Regions from separate parts of the Homo sapiens genome. Here region 2 is linked to region 1. Evidence: fine-mapped expression QTL. Tissue or cell type: whole blood. Region 1 holds a variant in brackets; the other region holds the start of a gene. All regions are shown on one strand. Distances are between the middles of the regions.

What was found. PIP is the estimated chance that this variant, and not a neighbour inherited with it, causes the effect.
Region 2: it holds the start of ZBTB46-AS2, and the variant in region 1 is fine-mapped to the expression of ZBTB46-AS2 in whole blood (TOPMed, PIP above 0.99).

Annotation. Positions count from the first base shown.
Region 1 is chr20:63,702,806-63,713,319 of GRCh38, forward strand. ARFRP1 (ARF related protein 1) reads right to left here and starts at 5,171. Exons shown (of 8, transcript NM_001267547.3): 1 at 5,062-5,171; 2 at 4,194-4,292; 3 at 3,846-3,933; 4 at 3,552-3,634. The coding sequence starts at 4,286. It overlaps ZGPAT (zinc finger CCCH-type and G-patch domain containing), which reads left to right and starts at 5,234. Exons shown (of 7, transcript NM_181485.3): 1 at 5,234-5,313; 2 at 5,748-6,359. The coding sequence starts at 5,776. RefSeq lists enhancers at 4,237-4,296, 5,159-6,119 and silencers at 4,447-4,496, 4,587-4,826, 5,247-5,306, 5,347-5,506. The variant ACGTGCC/A (reference allele first, on the strand shown) is at 5,668.
Region 2 is chr20:63,740,215-63,748,697 of GRCh38, forward strand. It overlaps ZBTB46-AS2 (ZBTB46 antisense RNA 2), which reads left to right and starts at 3,611. Exons shown (of 3, transcript NR_186425.1): 1 at 3,611-4,514; 2 at 5,314-5,461; 3 at 5,609-5,737. It overlaps SLC2A4RG (SLC2A4 regulator), which reads left to right. Exons shown (of 8, transcript NM_020062.4): 2 at 163-317; 3 at 1,156-1,265; 4 at 1,655-1,842; 5 at 1,916-2,016; 6 at 2,122-2,401; 7 at 2,485-2,576; 8 at 2,665-3,836. The coding sequence ends at 2,776. ZBTB46 (zinc finger and BTB domain containing 46) reads right to left here. Exons shown (of 5, transcript NM_001369741.1): 5 at 3,456-7,087. The coding sequence ends at 6,716. RefSeq lists a silencer at 1-679.

The sequences.
Region 1 (10,514 bases):
GGGCTCTGTGCCAGCACCTCGCACAGGGAGGGAGTGTGGCCATGCGGATAAGACTGACCAGCGCCATCTACGAAGCGAGCCTTCCCTGCCAGGACAGGGCCAGAGTCACTGAGCTCAGACCTCTGCAGCCTGGGCTGGTCAGTCCTGGGCTCGCTGGCAACACTCCTGGGCAAGACAGGGCACAGCCCCTGCAGCCTCAGGTACAAGTGCTGAGCCCTGGACCAGATGAGTGCACCTCTATCTCAATCAGAAAAAAACACAGCAAACTCCGCGTCCACGTGGAGCAGACAACAGCTCACATTTGCCACTTTGCCTCCAGGCTGTGCCAGCTCTCCTGTCCAGGCATGAGTGCCCAGAGACCTAGAACTGGATGCTGACCAGGTAGGACAAGCTGGTGGTCAGTGTGTTAAGACACACACACCCGAGAGCATGAGAAGCCAGGAGGCACAGCCCAACTCTCCGAAATCCTTAGGGTGTCTGAGCAGGGAGTACCAGACAACCCCATCCCAGTGCCAGACAAGCTTGTGCACCTGCACTTCCCACAGAGGAGAGAAGCCTGTGCACCTGCACTTCCCACAGTGGAAAGGAGGAGGCCCAAGGCCAGGCCCCCCCACCCCCAGGAACTTCCCACAGTGGAGAGGAGGCCCAAGGCCAGGCGCCCTCCAGGGTTCTGCAGGTAGCGAGGCCCCCCCACCCCCAGGAACTTCTCTGGCCTACAGACAGGTCCCACACAGAGGCCGCCAACCCCTCAAGGGACCCTGCAGTGTGCCGGCTGTCTGCTGCTGACACAAGGGAGCAGGCGGACCCTAAGGTGGAGACCTCTGTGGCAGGAGGGGCGGCTCTGTGGAGGCTGCAGCAAGCCCAGTGAGAGAATCTCCACGTGGCTCCTGGGGCTTCTGAGCAGGGTGGCAGAAGGTTCATGTGCAACCGGGTCCTGGACCATGGGACCACGTGGCCAGAGCCACCCATCACACCTACCAGGCACAAGGTGCACAGCCCAGCAGGGCCGCAGTGGACGGGAGCGACACCTCAGGGCTGAGTGCGGGCAGGACCCAGAGCCCCACGCCCCAGTGGAGGCGTCACAGCAGTGGTCATTGTGGGGTGCCCCACAAGGAGGGGGAAGAGGGAGGTGTCCAAGCGTGGCTCCTGGCTGGCCAGCTGACCCCAGTGGAGCAGTCAGAGGGACTGTGGGTCTGAGTTTTTCTCCCCAGCAGCAATGGGAGCTCCCCAACTGCAAAGTGCCAGCCAGCCTGAGAGACTAGTGTTACAGCAAAGAACCCAGGAGCTGAGGTCCTGGCACATGCCACACATGTGGACACCAACCCAGGGTCCAGCCCCAGGACGAGGCCAATTCGCAATGACGCCCCTTTCTGTGGTGCTGGCTCTGCACAAGGATGCAGGATACAGGAAACCAGGGTGGGAGCAGGGGCCTCCCTTCCGGTCCCTCCCAGTGACCTAGGGGGGTCCCTGCAGCTGATCCTCCCAGCTCTGAGCTCAGCAGGGTCAGGGGTCCCGGCCACTAGAGCAGCACATACTCAGCAGACACGCTGAATGACGAGCCACAGCTGCCTCATGGGCATGACTTGCACCTCATGTCTAGGAGACCCTGGTGGGCAGGAGATGGGGCTGCCATCCCACAGCTGTCCCACAGCTGGGGACCCAGGGAGCCACTGGCCCCACCACGGTGGTGTCTGGAGAAGGGCTCAGACTGCCAGGAAGTCGCACCCCAGCAGAAGTGGTAGTGAATTGGGAGGGCACTCAAGGAAGGGCTGTGCAGCCCCAAGACCAGCAGCAAGGATGGGCTACAGTGGCCCCCTTAAGTCTCCCTCTTCCAGTTTCGCCTTAAGAGAGGCCCTCAGGACCTTGGAGGAACCCCTCTCCAACGTGGAAGTGTGGGTCCACATAGGGCTGCAGCTGTGGCCAGTGCAGGCATCTCTGGCCCCACTGTATTCTTGCTTCATGTTGGAGAACACTGCACCAGCAGATGGTCTCATTTTGGTTTCTGTGGGACCCACTTTGGCTGCAAAGAGCCACACTGCCAGGTCACACCTGCCCAGGGCAGCCCACACTGGGGACCCACCAGGCCATGGTGTGAAGTCCCGGCCAGCCTGGCCCCACATGGCACAGCATAGCCAGTTCTCCTCCAGGGCTCCCTGCTGGGCCAACCACAGCTCTGTGGATCCTGCTGCCTGAGTCGACCTCTCCTCTCCCGTCCTCCCTGCCTTCCTGGTGCCGACCCCCAGTGTGCATCCTGTACCTCGACCTGTCTCAGCATCTGTGCCTGAGACACCGGCCTGTGACAAGATCATCATCATCTGTGTCACTCCCCAAGCATGCTGCGCACTGGACACACAGGCCCTGACTCAACTTGTCCTGTCTGACTTCAGTGGTCCTACAGGATCTATCAGAGATCACTTGGCCATGGGAGAAATGTCTTCTTGGCTAGAAGTCACAGCAGGAGGGGACACTTTGGGGGCGCCTAGGAAAGGGGAACTAGGATCAAAAAAGAGATCAGGACCTGGGCACTCAGCTCTAGAGATGGCATCAGGGCAGCCAAGGCACTGGGGACACCCCACACCCACTGTGCCAGCCTAGGGCAGGGAGCCCGAGGAAGCCACAGGCTCTGCCCTGCTCAGTGCTGGACTCAGTGCCTGGCCCAGGCTGAGAAGGAGATAAACTGCAGCCTTGGGGGTGTGGGGAAGGGGCACCACACTGGGATCTCAGAAATGCCCAAAACCTGTGTCAAAATAGGAGACTGCCGCTGTGAGACCCTGAGGAGTCTTCTGGTGATCATGGAAGAACAAATGTTAAGCTAGAACTGAAGGAACCTCATCAGGGGAGAGGCAGCCATCCTGCCGTCCCCACATCTGGTCTTTGCCATTTCTGTGTCCTGTGGTGGTCAGCAGCAAGGTCTCTGAGCCGAAAGGAGGCACTCACTTTGGAGGAGTGCAGGGTCCCCAGGTCCCCACACTTTGTCTTGTCCTGACTGAGAAAGAAACAGACTGCCCTGACCTCTCTGACTTGGCCAGCGAGGTTGCCCTTAGGCTCAAACCCAAGCCAGGGTTTGAACATTCCCAGACACTTGTAAGATGTTTAGGTTGTTAACATAATGTTCAGGTTTCAAAACATTGAAAGAAACTAGCCCCAGCCCTGAACCCAGATCCCCCCCGGCTTCAGGCATGACCAGTGAACACGCCCTTCTCTCACTGGTCACCTGAGGATGCCGCACTCTGTCAACAGGTTCCCCTAATACATGCTCTGATCTGATCGCCTTGGCATTTAGTGATTCTTTCCCTGGAATTCTCCACTGGCCCCATCGCAGGGAACTCCCAAGTGGGAAACTCCCCTACCACCACTTTTGGGGCAACTTCAGCTAAGGGTTCAGCTGGGACAAAACAGGGAGCCACTCGGGAACCTGGGACAGGACCAGAGAGAAAACCCGAGGGACAGAGTGGGTAAGGAAAACTGCTGAGGAAGGGCCCAAAGGGCACTCTGGAAAGAAGTGGCACTGGAGGGCTGGGGTGGGGGTGGTCCTGGCCAGGGAGTCTTACCTTGTCCCACAAAGACTGCAGCTCTTCCTGCCCTCCTAAGTCCCAGAACATGAGCCGAGCCTTTCCCACATCCACAGTGCCGACTGGGGAGAGGAGGAAACAGGCAAGGCTCATGACCTTGGTCCTCGACACACCCAGTCCCAGCTCTCCCAGGGGATGGGGCAAACCATGCTGGTGCCACTCAAATGAGACTTGAGAGGGGCCCGACAGGGCTGTGGCCACGGGCCAGCTGGACTGTGAATATCACGGCATCCTCAAGGCCCCAAACCCACAGCCTGCTATTGAGACCCTTACTGTTTAGGCCCACGGTGGTGGTGATTTTGGATAGACTCATCCCCTTGTAGTTCTTGTTAAATCGGGTTTTCGACTGCTCCAGGAAGGTCTGAGGAGAGAGGCAGAGGCGAAACACATCAAGGAGGGGCTATACTGGCTTCCAAATATCCTTACTCAGGTCTGTTCTTTAAAAGACAGAAACAGAAACAGAGCAACACTCTGCTCTTCAGGAGGCTGGTGGTGACTATCCTGCCGTCTCAGGTGAAATTTGGCTTCCGTCTGGGTAGTGAACGTGCAGCTGACAGCACAAAACCGAAGGGGGCGCCGCCAGGCCGTGGGAAAGGTGCGCGCAAGGGCGTGGGCACTCACCGTCTTCCCAGCATTGTCCAGGCCCAGGATCAGGATGCAGTACTCGTCCTTCTGAAACATGTACTTGTACAAGCCCGACAGCAGCGTGTACATCCTGCCCTGGGCACCCCAACATAGGTCAGTGTGCAGCCAGAAAGCACCTCCCCTCCCCCGGGCTTCTCCACGGTGGTCAGTGGCGCCCCACGTCCAGCCGACCGCTCAGGACGAGAGCCTGGGGGCCATTCCCGACTCCTCGTCCCTCTCCCACCCCGTCCCTCTGTAACTTCTCCCAGGTCAGCCGCCACTGTGTCCTGCTCACAGCAATGACTGCGACCTCTCCGCATACACATCGGTTCCGGCCCCTCCCCTGCTCGCGGGACTACCCAGCCGGGTGTTCACAGTGAGCTCAGCCGCGCTCCCGCCCTCCCCCGAGGCTTCGCTCCCACGCTTCACGCGCGCGGAACGGGGAACACACTCGCTGCAGCCCCGCCTGGGCCACGGCACCCTCGAGCGCCAGCCCCGCGCCCCACCCGGGAGCAGCGAGCCACCGGCGCGCTCCCCAGGAGCCCCTGCAGGCGCCGGGTAGGGACGCCCCATCACCCCATTTCTTAAAACGGGGACGGCCCTGGGGGGAGCGGACTACAGGGCGGGTGAGCAGCGGCGCGGCTGCTCCTGGAGTGCACCTGGAGGCGGCGCGCGGCTGGCAGGGAACGACTGCGAAGGAAGAACCTGGGTCGCGGCCCCCGGCTACGTCCGCCCCAAGCCGCCGCCGCCAGGTCTGAGGCTCCCCGACAAGCAGCCAAAGCTGGCTCCTGTCACACCCGCGTCCCACCTCGAGTCCTGGGCCGCCCCTCGGGCCTCGCGCCTCACCGCACAGCCTGCGGCCTACCTGCGTCCGCCGCGCCCTCGGAGCCGCTGCTGCTGACCCCCGCTGACCTCCGCTGACCCCGCGCTAACCCCGCGCGGCGCCTGACGGGACGCGGGCCGGCCTCAGGGAATGAGCTGAACCGCGTCCCAGCGGCCTCCGCGCTCCGCTTCCCGGCTGCCCCCGCGCGCCAAGCACTTCCGGAAGCGGCGGCGCTCGGGAGGAAGTGCCGATCGGCTGCTGGGGCGAAAAGGGGGCGCCGGGCCGCTCTAGCCGGTGAGGCCGGCGGGCTCTCTGTGGCTGCGGCTGGGAAACCGCGCGGAGGAGGTGCCCGGCCGGGGACCAGGTGGCCGCGGTTTGCGGGGACGCGGCCCTGGCCAGACAGAAGAGACGCCGGGCGGGGGGGCGCGGCCGGCCTGGAAGGCGGCGGGCGCGGCGGGTGGGCTCGGCGGAGGGTGAGGCGGCGGGGCGCCCCGCGGGGAAGGGGCTCCGGAGTGACGCGGGACCCGGCTAGCGGCGAGCCCACGGCGGCTCGGAAGGGAAGCGCGGAGCCTGAGCGGGGGTACCCGGGCTGCGACCTCTGCGCTGGGAGCTGTGCCTCTGAGCCGGTGTCTCCCCGAGGGAAAGGGG[ACGTGCC/A]CGTGCCCGTGCCCGCCCTCAGGCTGTGGGGTCGGTCCCGAGACGCGGGGCTCAGCTGGCTTCTCTTCTTGCAGCCCTGGTCCAGCGCCTCCCTCTCTCAGCATGGACGAGGAGAGCCTGGAGTCGGCCTTGCAGACCTACCGTGCGCAGCTGCAGCAGGTGGAGCTGGCCTTGGGCGCCGGCCTGGATTCGTCTGAGCAGGCTGACCTGCGCCAGCTGCAGGGGGACCTGAAGGAGCTCATCGAGCTCACCGAGGCCAGCCTGGTGTCTGTCAGGAAGAGCAGCTTGTTGGCCGCGCTGGACGAAGAGCGCCCGGGCCGCCAGGAAGATGCTGAGTACCAGGCTTTCCGGGAGGCCATCACTGAGGCGGTGGAGGCACCAGCAGCGGCCCGTGGGTCCGGATCAGAGACCGTTCCTAAAGCAGAGGCGGGGCCAGAATCTGCGGCAGGTGGGCAGGAGGAGGAAGAGGGAGAGGACGAGGAAGAGCTGAGTGGGACAAAGGTGAGCGCGCCCTACTACAGCTCCTGGGGCACTCTGGAGTATCACAACGCCATGGTGGTGGGAACGGAAGAGGCGGAGGATGGCTCGGCGGGTGTCCGTGTGCTTTACCTGTACCCCACTCACAAGTCTCTGAAGCCGTGCCCGTTCTTCCTGGAGGGAAAGTGCCGCTTTAAGGAGAACTGCAGGTAAAGCCCTTTGTTGTCAGATGCCAACCTTAGGGGCGTAAGGGGCACGCACACAGGGTCGGGTCAGGATCGGCCCTCCCTTTGCTTTGCAGTTTTGTCTCAGCTTCCTGGGGCAGGCGTGCTTTGACAGCTGTGTCTGTGTTCAGGCGTCTACGTCTTCCTTCTGGGGTGAATCAAGAAGCATGGAAGGAGGCCAGGCGCGGTGGCTCACGCCTGTAATCCCAGCACTTTAGGAAGCCGAGGCGGGCAGATCACCTGAGGTCAGGAGTTCAAGACCACGCTGGTCAACATGGTGAAACCCCATCTCCTTAAAAACACAAAAATGAACCGGTCGTGGTGGCGCGCACCTGTGGTCCTGGCTACTCAGGAGGCTGAGGCAGGAGAATTGGTTGAACCCAGGAGGCCGAGTTTGCAGTGAGTGGAGATGCAGCCACTGTACTGCAGCCCGAGCAGCAGTGCAAGGCTTATGTGGAAGAGAGTAGGTCTCCAGCCTATCGTCAGTTTTTTTTTGGTGGTTGTTTTAATTTTTTTTGAGACAGGGTCTTACTTTGTCAACCAGGCTGGAGTGCAGTGGCATAGTCCTGGCTCACTGCAGCCTGGACCTCCTGGGCTCAACCGATCCTCCTGCCTCAGCCCCCCTAGGAGCTGGGCTACAGACTCACGCTACTACACCCAGCTAATTTTTATATTACTATAATTTTTTATCTTTTTTTTGAGATGGAGTCTTGTTCTGTTGCCCAGGCTGGAGTGCAGTGGCGTGATCTCGGCTCACTGCAAGCTCCGCCTCCCGGGTTCACGCCATTCTCCTGCCTCAGCCTCCCGAGTAGCTGGGACTACAGGCGCCCGCCACCATGTCTGGCTAATTTTCTGTATTTTTAGTAGAGACGGGGTTTCACCATGTTAGCCAGGATGGTCTCAATCTCCTGACCTCGTGATCCGCCCACCTTGGCCTCCCAAAGTGCTGGGATGACAAGCGTGAGCCACCGCGCCTGGCCTTTTTTTTTTGGAGACAGAGTTTCACTCTCCTCACCCAGGCTGGAGTGTAGTGGCGCAATCTCAGCTTACCGCAACCTCTGTCTCCCGGGTTGAAGTAATTCTCTACCTCAGCGTCCAGAGTAGCTGGCATTACAGGCGCCCGCCACCACACTGGGCTAATTTTTTGTATTTTTAGTAGAGTCGGAGATTCACCATCTTGGCCAGGCTGGTCTTGAACTCCTGACCTCGTGATCCACCCACCTTGGCCTCCCAAAGTGCTGGGATCACAGGCGTGAGCCACTGCGCCTGGCCCTGTTGTTAGTTTTATTCTCTAGAGTTCAACTTTTAAATTTTACTTTCATGGAGATTTTCAAACATACCCCAAATTAGAGAGTTTAGCATAATCACCGCCCACGGTCCATCATCCAATGTCGTCATTTATTAATATTTTCCCAGTCTCATTTTGTCTGTTCTCCCTGCCCTATTTTTTTCTTTCCTGGGCCATTTTAAAGCAAATTCCAGAAGTTACTGGTTTTTTCCAATTATGAATACTTCATAGTTGCATCTCTAATCTAACTGATTAGGAAATTACTTAAAAAGTAACTTTTTGGAAGTCCAAGTCCGATGTGAGGACAAAAAAGAGTAACTTCTGTGTCATAATAGGTAACACATTTAATGGTAATACCTCTTCCATATTCAAATATGAACAATTATTACTGTAATGTCTCTATTTCCCTAAGCGCATAGCTTTATTTTTCCTCCTTTTTACTTTTCTCTTAGAAGAAATATTTACCAAGCCTTCTAGTAGGTAATTTTCTTTTTTAGCCAATAGTTCAGGCTGACCGTGTAACCATCCCTAGTTCTAGTTCTAGTTCTTTGAATGTCTTCCTTTTTTTTTTTTTTTTGAAACAGCGTCTTGCTGCTCTGTCACCCAGGCTGGAGTGCAGTGGCACAATCTCGGCTCACTGCAATCTCCGCCTCCCTGGCCCAAGCCATCCTCCCACCTCAGCCTCCCTAATAGCTGATACTACAAGTGTGCACTGCCACGCCCAGCTAATTTTTGTATTTTTTGTAGAGACGGGATTTCACCATATTACCCAGGTCTCGAATTCCTGATCCCTTTGATGAGAGATCTGACACATCCCTGTGGTGCTCCCTCTGGGCCAGGCACTGCTCCAAGGGTTTCATATACTTTCATTCATCTGTGCAACAGCCCTGTAGGTAGGCCCTGCAGTCACACCATCTGACAGAGGAGGAAACAGGAGTAGAAGAACTGAGTGGTCCAGGGCTTCAAGGCTCAGAGGGCTCCGGTTGCCCCCAGCCCTCGTTCCGTCCCCTGCTCCACCCAGTGCTGCTTGCCATGTCGGCATCAGGCCTGATCTGAAAGCTTCCGGAGCATCTTACAGACGTCCACCTTGCCACCATTCAGGACTGATAAGTTCTCTTGGATTTGCGTTGGACCTTTTTTTTTTTTTTAAGATGGAGTTTCACTGTTGTTGCCCAGGCTAGAGTACAATGGCATGACCTCCACCTCCTGGGTTCAAGGGATTCTCCTGCCTCAGCCTCCCAAGTAGCTGGGATTACAGGCGCCTGTCACCACGTGGTGCCCAGCTAATTTTTATATTTTTAGTAGAGGCAGGGTTTCACCATGTTGGCCAGGCTGGTCTCGAACTCTTGACCTCAGGTGATCCCGCCTTGGTTTCCCAAAGTGCTGGGATTACAGGCATGAGCCACCACACCCGGCCCAGGATTTCTTTATATATTCTGGATATCATCCCTTATGAAGTATATAGTTTGCAGATATTTGCTCCCATTGTTTGGGTTGTCTTTTCACTTGATATAGTGTCCTTTGATGCACAAACATTTTAAATTTTGATGCAGTGCAATTTATTGTTTCTTTATTGCCTATGTTTTTGTCATCAGGTTTAAGAAACCACCTCATCCATAGTTATGAGGATTTTCACCTATGTTTTCTTCTAAGAGTTCTGTAGTTTTAGCTGTTAAATTTAGGTCTTTGATCCATTTTGAGTTAATTTTTGTATATGTTATTAGGTGAGGGTCCACTTTATTCTTTTGCATGTGGATTTCCAGTTTTCCCAGCACCATTTGTTTAAAAGACTGCTTTTTCTCCACTGAATGGTCTTGGCACTTTTGTCCAAAATCAATTGGCAATATATGTAAGGGTTTATTTCTGAGCTCTCTCTCCTGTTCCATTGGTGTATATGTGCCAGTACCACACTGTTCTGATTATTATAGCTTTGTGATAAGTTTTAAACTCAGGAAGTGGTAGTTATTCACCATTTGCTCCTCTTTTTCAAGTTTGTTTTGTTTCTGGATCCTTTGCAATTTCATATGAATTTTAGGATCGGCTTGTCCAATTCTGCATAAAAGACAGTTTGAATTTTGATATGGATTGCATAGAATGTGTAGATCTGTTTGGGGCACATTGTCATCTTTACAATATTAAGCCTTCTGGCTGGGTGTGGTGGCTGACGCCTGTAATCCCAGTACTTTGGGAGGCTGAGGCGGGCATATCACTTGAGGTCAGGAGTTCAAGACCAGCCTGGCCAACGTGGTGAAACCCCGTCTCTACTAAAAATAAAAAACAAATTAGTCGGAGGTGGTGCACACCTGTAATCCCAGCTACACGAGAGGGTGAGGCAGGAGAATCGCTTGAACCTGGGAGGAGGAGGTTGCAGTGAGCTGAGATCATGCCACTGCACTCCAGCCTGGGTAACAGAGGGAGACTCCATCTTAAACAACAACAATAACAGAAGAAAAAAACAGTATTAAGTCTTCCAATTCATGAATGAAGGATCTGTCCATTTATTTACGTCTTTAATTTCTTTCAACAGTATTTTGTACTGTTCAAGTCTTGCACATTCTTGGTTAAATAAGTATTATTTTTGATGCTTCTCTAAGGAATTGTTTTTCTTTTCCTTTTTTTTTTGAGACAGAGTCTTGCTCTGTCACCCAGGCTGGAGTGCAATGGCACAATCTTGGCTCACTGCAACCTCTGCCTCCCGGGTTCAAGCAATTCTTCTGCTCAGCCTCCCAAGTAGCTGGGATCACAGGTGCCTGCCACCACACCCAGCTAATTTTTTTTTTTGAGATGGAGTCTTGCTCTGTTGCCCAGGCTGGAGTGAAGTGGCCCAATCTTGGCTCACTGCAAGCTCCACC
Region 2 (8,483 bases), 36 kb after region 1:
CGCCGCGCCGGGCTGGGGGCGGGGCCGGGGGCGGGGCCGCGCCGTCCACACCGGCCGCAGCCGGTTTTCGAGGCGGGCGCCGAGCGGATCCGCGGCGGAGGTTGAGGGACCCCCCTCCCCCGGCCACCGCCTCCGCTGAGTCTGCCCCCTCCCCATCCGCAGGGCTCTTCCGTGGGCGGCGGCTTCGCGGGCTTGGAGTTCGCGCGGCCGCAGGAGTCGGAGCCGCGGGCCTCGGACCTGGGGGCCCCCCGGACGTGGACGGGGGCGGCGGCGGGGCCCCGGACTCCGTCGGCGCACATCCCCGTCCCAGCGCAGAGGTGAGCGGGAGGCCCGGTGCCTCGGGACTCGGTGTGCGCAGGGGCGGTGGGTGGGGTGCGGAGACACCGGCCCCGACGGAGGCCAGGTCAGGGCCCCAGGTTTGTAATTACCAGCCACCCCCAAGCTCTTCAGCCCTGGAGGAGCTGAGCAGAAATGATCGATGACTGGGAGTCCCTACACCTCCCTCCACCGCAGTTCCTCGGGGCTAGAGCTCAGAACCCGGAGCGGGTGGCTGTGCGTCTCTGTGCAGAAGAGGCTGCGCGGTCGGCATGGGGCGACTGTCCAGGAATCCCTGGGGCTCCTGACCGCCACCTCCCAACCCCTGCCAGGCCGGACACCTCGGTCTGGCTGCCAGGGCAGGGGCGGGCCCTGGCCTGGCTCGCTGGGGCCTGGGGAGCTGCCCGTGCTTCCAGCCCAGTCTCCCCCTGGCTGCTGCCGGCTGCTGGCCACTCCCACCTCCCAGGCCTGGCGTGAGGCCCACAGCTGCTGTTGCACAACCCTGGTTAATGTGTGATGGGGGGAGGCCTGGGCCTGGCCCGCCCCTCTGCCAGGGCTTCAGACCCCTGCCCAGCCCCAGTATCTGAAGGAACCACAGTGGAGCCAAGCCCGCGATGTGGAGAACTCAGGCTTCAGGAGACCCTGGCCCTGCTCCTGGCGGCTCCGGGTGGCTTTCAGCTCTCTCTGCAACCTGAGCTGGGGGAGGAGCCAGGCCTCATGCCCAGGGCTGGGAGTGGGGAGCCTGGTGTGCACGCGTGCCCAGGCCTGCACGTGGACCGACCAGGGGAGGGGCCCAGAGCTCTGGCTGGGTCACCCGCACCCCGCCCCCATCTCCTCCAGAGCCACCCCAGGAAAAGCCCGGCTGGACGAGGTCATGGCTGCCGCTGCCCTTACAAGCCTGTCCACCAGCCCTCTCCTTCTGGGGGCCCCGGTTGCAGCCTTCAGCCCAGGTAAGACTCAGATGTCTGCATTTAGGGGTGTGGGTGGGGACAGGGCTCAGAACCTACAGCCACCCAGCCTCTGTGGGGCAAGCAGAGCCCTCAAACCTGGGACTCCTTTCTAAAATGGACTCCCGCACCCTCAGTGCCCCCTACTGAGGCCAAAGCGGCAGGACCCAGGCCTTCTGGCCTCCCTGACCTGCTCACCTCCACGCGGCTGGCCACACACGTCTGCCAACCCTTTCCTGTGCCGGGGGGGTTTCTCCCCAAGCCCTGGGGCCAGCTCCTCCAAGACGCTCTGCCCACCAGTCTCACCGGACTTGGTGAACAGGGGCAGCTCAGGATTAGGGACTCCCTGGACCCACCCGAAGTTCTAAGGCGGGGGGCCCGTGTCCCCACAGAGCCTGGCCTGGAGCCCTGGAAGGAGGCCCTGGTGCGGCCCCCAGGCAGCTACAGCAGCAGCAGCAACAGTGGAGACTGGGGATGGGACCTGGCCAGTGACCAGTCCTCTCCGTCCACCCCGTCACCCCCACTGCCCCCCGAGGCAGCCCACTTTCTGTTTGGGGAGCCCACCCTGAGAAAAAGGAAGGTGAGCTTGGGGGCGGCCCCCAGGGAGGGGCGGGTGTGGCGGCTGAGCCTGACCCTGGCCCCTGTTGCTGCAGAGCCCGGCCCAGGTCATGTTCCAGTGTCTGTGGAAGAGCTGCGGGAAGGTGCTGAGCACGGCGTCGGCGATGCAGAGACACATCCGCCTGGTGCACCTGGGGTGCGGCGGGGCCTGGGGTGCGGCGGGGCCTGCGGGTTGGCTGGGGTTGTGAGGCCCGGCCAGGCCACCCCTTCAGCTCCCACTGGCTGGCTGTGTCTCCCGCAGGAGGCAGGCAGAGCCTGAGCAGAGTGATGGTGAGGAGGACTTCTACTACACAGAGCTGGATGTTGGTGTGGACACGCTGACCGACGGGCTGTCCAGCCTGACTCCAGTGTCCCCCACGGCCTCCATGCCGCCTGCCTTCCCCCGCCTGGAGCTGCCAGAGCTGCTGGAGCCCCCAGCCCTGCCTAGTCCCCTGCGGCCGCCTGCCCCGCCCCTGCCCCCGCCCCCTGTCCTGAGCACCGTTGCTAACCCCCAGTCCTGTCACAGTGACCGTGTCTACCAGGTGGGTGAGGCCACGGGTGGCAGCTGGGGCGGGTCTCAGGGCTCTCTGGAGGGGAGTGAAGCCCTGGCTGTGTCTCCCTGTAGGGCTGCCTGACGCCCGCCCGCCTGGAGCCGCAGCCCACGGAGGTCGGAGCCTGCCCACCCGCCTTGTCCTCCAGGATCGGAGTCACCCTGAGGTGCGTGTGGGCTGAGGGCCTGCGGCTGGCACCAGGTGGGGAGGGTCCTGGTCTCACAGCACCCCATGTCCTGTGACCCCCCGCACAGGAAGCCCCGCGGCGACGCGAAGAAGTGCCGGAAGGTGTATGGCATGGAGCGCCGGGACCTCTGGTGCACAGCCTGCCGCTGGAAGAAAGCCTGCCAGCGGTTCCTGGACTAAGTCCGGCTCGTTCAAGAACATAAGCTACCACCTTCTCCCTCCCCACCCCCTCCAGGCCCGGGGCTGAAACAGCCCGAGGACAGCCCCAGGGGCTGGCTTTCACCAGCTGCAGGGTCTGCTTTTACTTGGGGTGGGGGGGCGGGGCTGACCCTGAACCCTCCCCCCCGCCAGGTCGGGGAGGGGTCCCACCACTCAAAGTGCCTCTAAAGAAACCAGCTTTTTGCACTAAAGCCAAACCACACCGCTGTCCCCTTAGCCCCAAGGGCCCTGGGGGCAGCCACCCTCCCGCCTGTCGGCCCGTAGATTTATCAAGGGTGTTATGGGCCCAGCTTTGGGGGGCCAGTCCCGATGCACTTTGAGGGGTGTTGGAGAGGGGACTCCCCCACTCGCACTTAACTCAACGGCTCTCGGGCCCTGGGGCTGTTTTTACCATGTTTGTTTTTGAAGCTCAGGTGTCTCACGTCTGGGCTGCACCAGGCGAAGAGAGAAATTAAAGATTTGAGGTTTTTCCAGAAGCTTTGTCTGCCTCTCGGGAGGAAGGCCGTGGGGCTGGGACCCTGTGGTGGGCAAGTGGGTGGAGTCTGGCAGCTGCCCACAGAGGGCCGAGGGTCACCCGTCGGCCGCCGCCACCCCAGGCGAGGCCGGAGGAAGGATCATCTGAGACGCAGGAGGCATCTGCTGGAGCAGCAATTTCCCAATTTATTGAAAGTGATCGCTTTGCAAGGATGTCTAAGCTAATCCCGTCACAGAAAGGAAACGCACAGGCGCCTAGGCAGAAACTTGGAGACTCACCGCAGAGGCCACGTGAACCCACGGCCACAGAGAGGCAGGACGGCAGAGCCATGATTTCCCACCGAGCGATTACGAGAACCTCTTCCCCCAATAGTAGACACATCTCCAATACAAACACAGGTTTATAATAAGTAATAGGAAGTCAATATAATATAGATTATCCCCAGAAAAAAATCAACAATCTTCAAACACTGCCCTTTTTTTGTGTGTTTTGTTTTTGTTGACAGGTTGAAAGCATGTTGAAAAAAATAAATATTTAAGAAAAGCACACACAGCACCCTCACTACAAGTAGTTCTAAAAGGGCTGCATACAAAACACAATATAAGATCTAAAAAAAACCACCACCATTAAGTATGGCTTTCTTAAGAGTCGCACATGTCACAGAATGAGCTAAAATAAGATTACTTCTTTTATAATATTGCAAAAAGTTCCAGTTTTTGCATTTTCTCAGTTTTTTAAAGAGGAAGATGTGCAAAGTTGGAAGCAGTAAGCTGCGTCTTCTGAGTCAGTTCCCTACGTAGCCCTGGCAGTGTCCTGTGTCCCAAAGCTCAGAGAGCCCCAGTGTACAACCTGGTCAGGATCCAGAGCTTGACAGAAAAATCGTGGTGTCCCTGCCCCCTCCCCGCCCCCAAATAACACCATCCCCAATGGACTGTATTTCCCACTTTGGTGTTGTAAACACCAAAATACAAACAGACACAAACAAAAATACAAAATGTGAAATGTAATCTACACATTTTTCCTCTTCATAAAAAAATATTTATTAGTTTGAACATCGATTTAAAAAAAAATCAGTCACATAAAAAAAACCCTTCATGACATGTCTTTTCCCTCCACGCCTCCTGAGATGGACGTGCTCACCTGGGCCTCGGAAATCCCACACTCTTCAGTCGGCAAACTGCGAACAAGAACAGGAAATCTGCCACGCAGCAAACACTTGGGGAGGTCAGTGGGACACTGTTGGTTTTAGGGAAGAAAATGCCCCTGTAGCTCCGGCGGGGAACCCCAAAACGGTCAGCAAAGGCAGGCCACACGGAGTGAGCCGGCCAGATGGAGCAGGACATCCTGAGTGTGGAGGGGGAGGCGGGCCTGGGTCCTGGGCAGGGTGGCCTGAGAGCAGGGACTGGTACAAAACCCAGAGACATTGGTGGGTAGCAAAGGTCTGGTTTCCAAATGCATTTTGTAAGAAAGTCAGTCTGTTTAGAAAAAGGGTTTAAAAATCAGGGGAAAGGTACAAAGTTCTGAGAATTCTCAAAGAGGCCGGGGTGGGGCTGGCCTGGGGTGAGGGCTGGAGGGCTCCGCTGCAGCTCCCTGGTAGCCATGCTCTCCCCCTGGGGGACTCGTGCCAGAGCCACCCACCTTGCTCGGTAAGAGTGGGCAGGGCTCACCGCTGAGGGGCCAGCGCTTGGCCCGGCTCCTATCCCCACACTCCGTGTGCAGAAAAATCTTGGCCTCTTTCTCCAGCTTTGAGGAGCCCACAGCCTCCGAGCTGAGGGGTGTGTGTGATGACAGCTCCAGCCAGGGCACCCTGTCATTGGTAGAACCGGGGGCCAATGTCAAAAAACAAAAGCCGTGACTCCTGCGCTGTACCTGGAGTCCTCCATGTACTCCTCCACAGGACCCCCGGCCAGCCCCAGCCCTCCCCGAGCAGCAGCGGTCAGGGAAGCTGGTGCTCTACCTGACAATGTGGGGAAAAGCCTGGTATACAGGCTAGAAAAAGAGAGTAAAAACTCTTTCCACGCAGCCCTGAAGCTCAGCACTCCGGGGGGTCTTCACACGGGCAGGTCCTGGAGGGAAGGAGGAGGCCACCGCGCCCACCTCCCATCTGAAGGCACAGCACCGCAGTGGTGGCCTGTGCCAGAGGAGGGGGTGAAGGATGGAATGTCCTCATGGTGAGTGCTGTCAGAGGCAGGCCTGAACGAGAAGACAGGCCGTGGCAACGGTCCCGAGGCTGTGAGTCTAGGCAGCCTGCCTCCGGGACCCCCAAAGCCAGGCGGTGCACCACAGCACACACCGTGGGACCTTTGCTTTTCACTCAGGAAAAGAAAGAACATGTGAGTGCTTCTGAAAACACAGCAAGAGGACTTGAGCACAAGCTAAAGGAAAAACAACCCTATATAGTTTCTTCGAGTGAGAAAAATAATGCCAAACAAAATAATTTTATGTAACTACCTCGATATGTCTCTGACTACTTAAAAATTTGGTTACCCACGCGGGGAGGTGTAAGCAGCACACTGCAGTTAGGAACACCGCCTCCAGTGTTAGCAGCAAAGGCAGGAGCCCAGCTCCAGCCCGTCCAGGAGGGGTCAGCAGGAGCGGCCGGGCTGGGCCATGGGCAGAACAGGACGGGCAGAGCCCGGGGTGGACGTGGCAGCCCAAGGCTCTCCGAGGAAGTGCACACGACTGAGCCGAGGCCCTTGCAGAGGGAACCTGGTGTGGCCTGAAGTGGTGGGGGGCACAGGGCTGAGGGTCCCCTCCTGGAAGGAGCCCCCAGGGCTGTGTCCACCTAAGATAGCACCTGGAGCCCTCGGCCTCCAGCAGGGTCTGCAGCTGTGTTGTGTGTTAAGCACCAAAGCCCAGAGGTAAGACGGTGGCAGGGCTCTCTGTGCACCTGGATTCTACAGGCTGCCATGGGCCACGGCTGCACCACGGGCCACGGCTGCAGCCACAGGCAGTGACCTGGCTGCTAGGGGAGGGGAGGGCGGGCTCCAGCCGGGCTGACCGGGTGTCTGTAAAACTCTGCACCTGCTCAGGCCAGGGGCCTCTGGGCCGAACACACCACCCCGCCCAGTGCCCACTGGACCCGGCCACAGGCCCATCACGTGTCCAAGCCAGGCTGGCCATCACAGGGGCCACTCACACACCCGCACCACCTGCTGGGGACTTAGGACCGTGCTCTCCCTTCACTCAAACCCACCCTGTGCCCTCCCCCAACTCACTTCATGTCTGGTCCCAGAGCACCCCTCTTGCTGGGGTCGCACCTGCTTAGCCCGCAGGGCTGGTTTCCGTGGGGGGTGGGTTCAGGGGGAAGCAGAGGAGGGGCCGCGAGAGGGGTGAGCGTGGCCCTGGCCCCGCAGTGGAGACCCACCGGACACACACACGGGTGGACGGAGCGAGGCAGCCACCGACCCTGCCGGCGGGCGGGCCTAGGAGAGCCAGGCGAAGTCCTTGTCAGGGCCTCCTGGGGGGCTGCGCGGCCGCGGCGAGTCTTCCTCATCCTTGTCGTCCGCCAACAGCGCATCCTCAGGGGCCAGGCCCTCGTCGTCCTCGCCCAGCTCCTCCGCCTCCCCTCGTGGGTCCTCAGGGTCCTCCAGATAGGGCCCGTCGCCTGGGAACAGCGCCTCTGGAGAGCCCTCGCCGCCTCCGCCGCCATGGTCCAGGGGCCCGGCCATGCCGCGGCCAGCACAGTCGGTGCACACACCGTGGCGCCTGGAGCCATGCCTGATGCCCACGCTGGCGGCGGACATGAAGACGCGGCTGCACACCTTGCACACATACTTCTTGTCCTTGCTGTGGACCTGCAGAGGCAGGGCAGGGGGTGAGCAGGGCCTGGTGGGTTGGGGGGCGGGGCAGGGGGTGAGCAGGGCCTGGTGGAGGTGGGGGGGGCAGGTGGTGAGCAGGGCCAGGTGGAGGTTGGAAGAGGGGGCAGGGGGTGAGCAGGGCCTGGTGGAGGTGGGGGGGGCGGGGCAGGGGGTGAGCAGGGCCCGGTGGAGGTTGGGAGGGGGGCCAGGGGGTGAGCAGGGCCTGGTGGGTGGGGGGGGTGCGGGGGTGAGCAGGGCCCGGTTGGGGTTGGGGGGGCACAGCCTCCCGGGCCCTCCGAGTGTCTGCACAGGCAGAGACTCCTGGTGGGGGAGGTGCGCAGACAGGAGTGCTCAGACCTTGAGCCCCAGCTCCTATCAGAGCCACACAGCAGAACTGCAGGTGGCACCAAGGCAGCCCTGTCCCAAGGGGATGCTGGCACGAGGGCGGCAGTGCCCCTCCCCCGCAAACCCAGCCCCTAGGTGGGCCAGTCTCAGCGTCTACACTGTGTGTCCAAGCACCCCCACCAGAGGCCCCCTGGGTTGACACACTTCTCACGGGGGTCACACCACCGGCCTCTGCCTAAAAGCCTGGCTTCCTCCAAACCTCCCTGCAGGACAGGCTGAGGGCCCCGCATTGGACTGGAGCTCACAGAGCTCTTCCTGTACCCAGCCGTACAGGGACGGGCCGGGGTTGGGGCTGCCAGCCGGGCAGGTGGGCCCACACCTCAGCCTGGCTGCGTGGACACCCCCTCAGCCCCTGACCCCCTCAGTCCCTGACCCCTCAGCCCGACCCTGACTCCAGGAACGTGTAAAGGAGGCAACTCCCCCACTCTCAGGCTGTTTCAAGGTCGACTGAGACATGCAAGAAGAGAGATGAGCACTTATGGTCAGAGGAGGAGGTGTGGCTGCCAGGGAGGGCAGTCGTGCTGTGCCCTGTGCTGGGCCCGGCAGGGAGATGGGGCAGCACCCTGAAGAGGGCCCATGTGGCAGGACGCGAGGTGCTGGGTTCCTGGAGGGTCTCAGCACTGGCCTCAAGGCCTGAGGGAACTACCACACACTGCTGGGGACATGTGGCCCCAGGTGGGCTTCCGCTGAGGGTGGGTGTGGACACCTGTGCTGTGCAGAACCAGACCTCAGACATGGCCAGGGATGGGGAGAGGTGGCCCTTGTACCCACTCACGGGCACCCTCGGCCACGCCAGCTAGAGGAGGCCTTGGGGGGCTGGCCCTGATCCCTCACAGCACAGCCCCTGTCTCTGCCCTCCAAGGACCGAGAGGGCAGGACCCACAGAGGACCCCAATAGCAACCCCTGGCCCCTGGCCAAGTCCACACGAGGGGCTTCTCTGAGGTGGGCTGGCCTCAGGTCAGTCCTCCAGGCTGAACCCGGCAATGA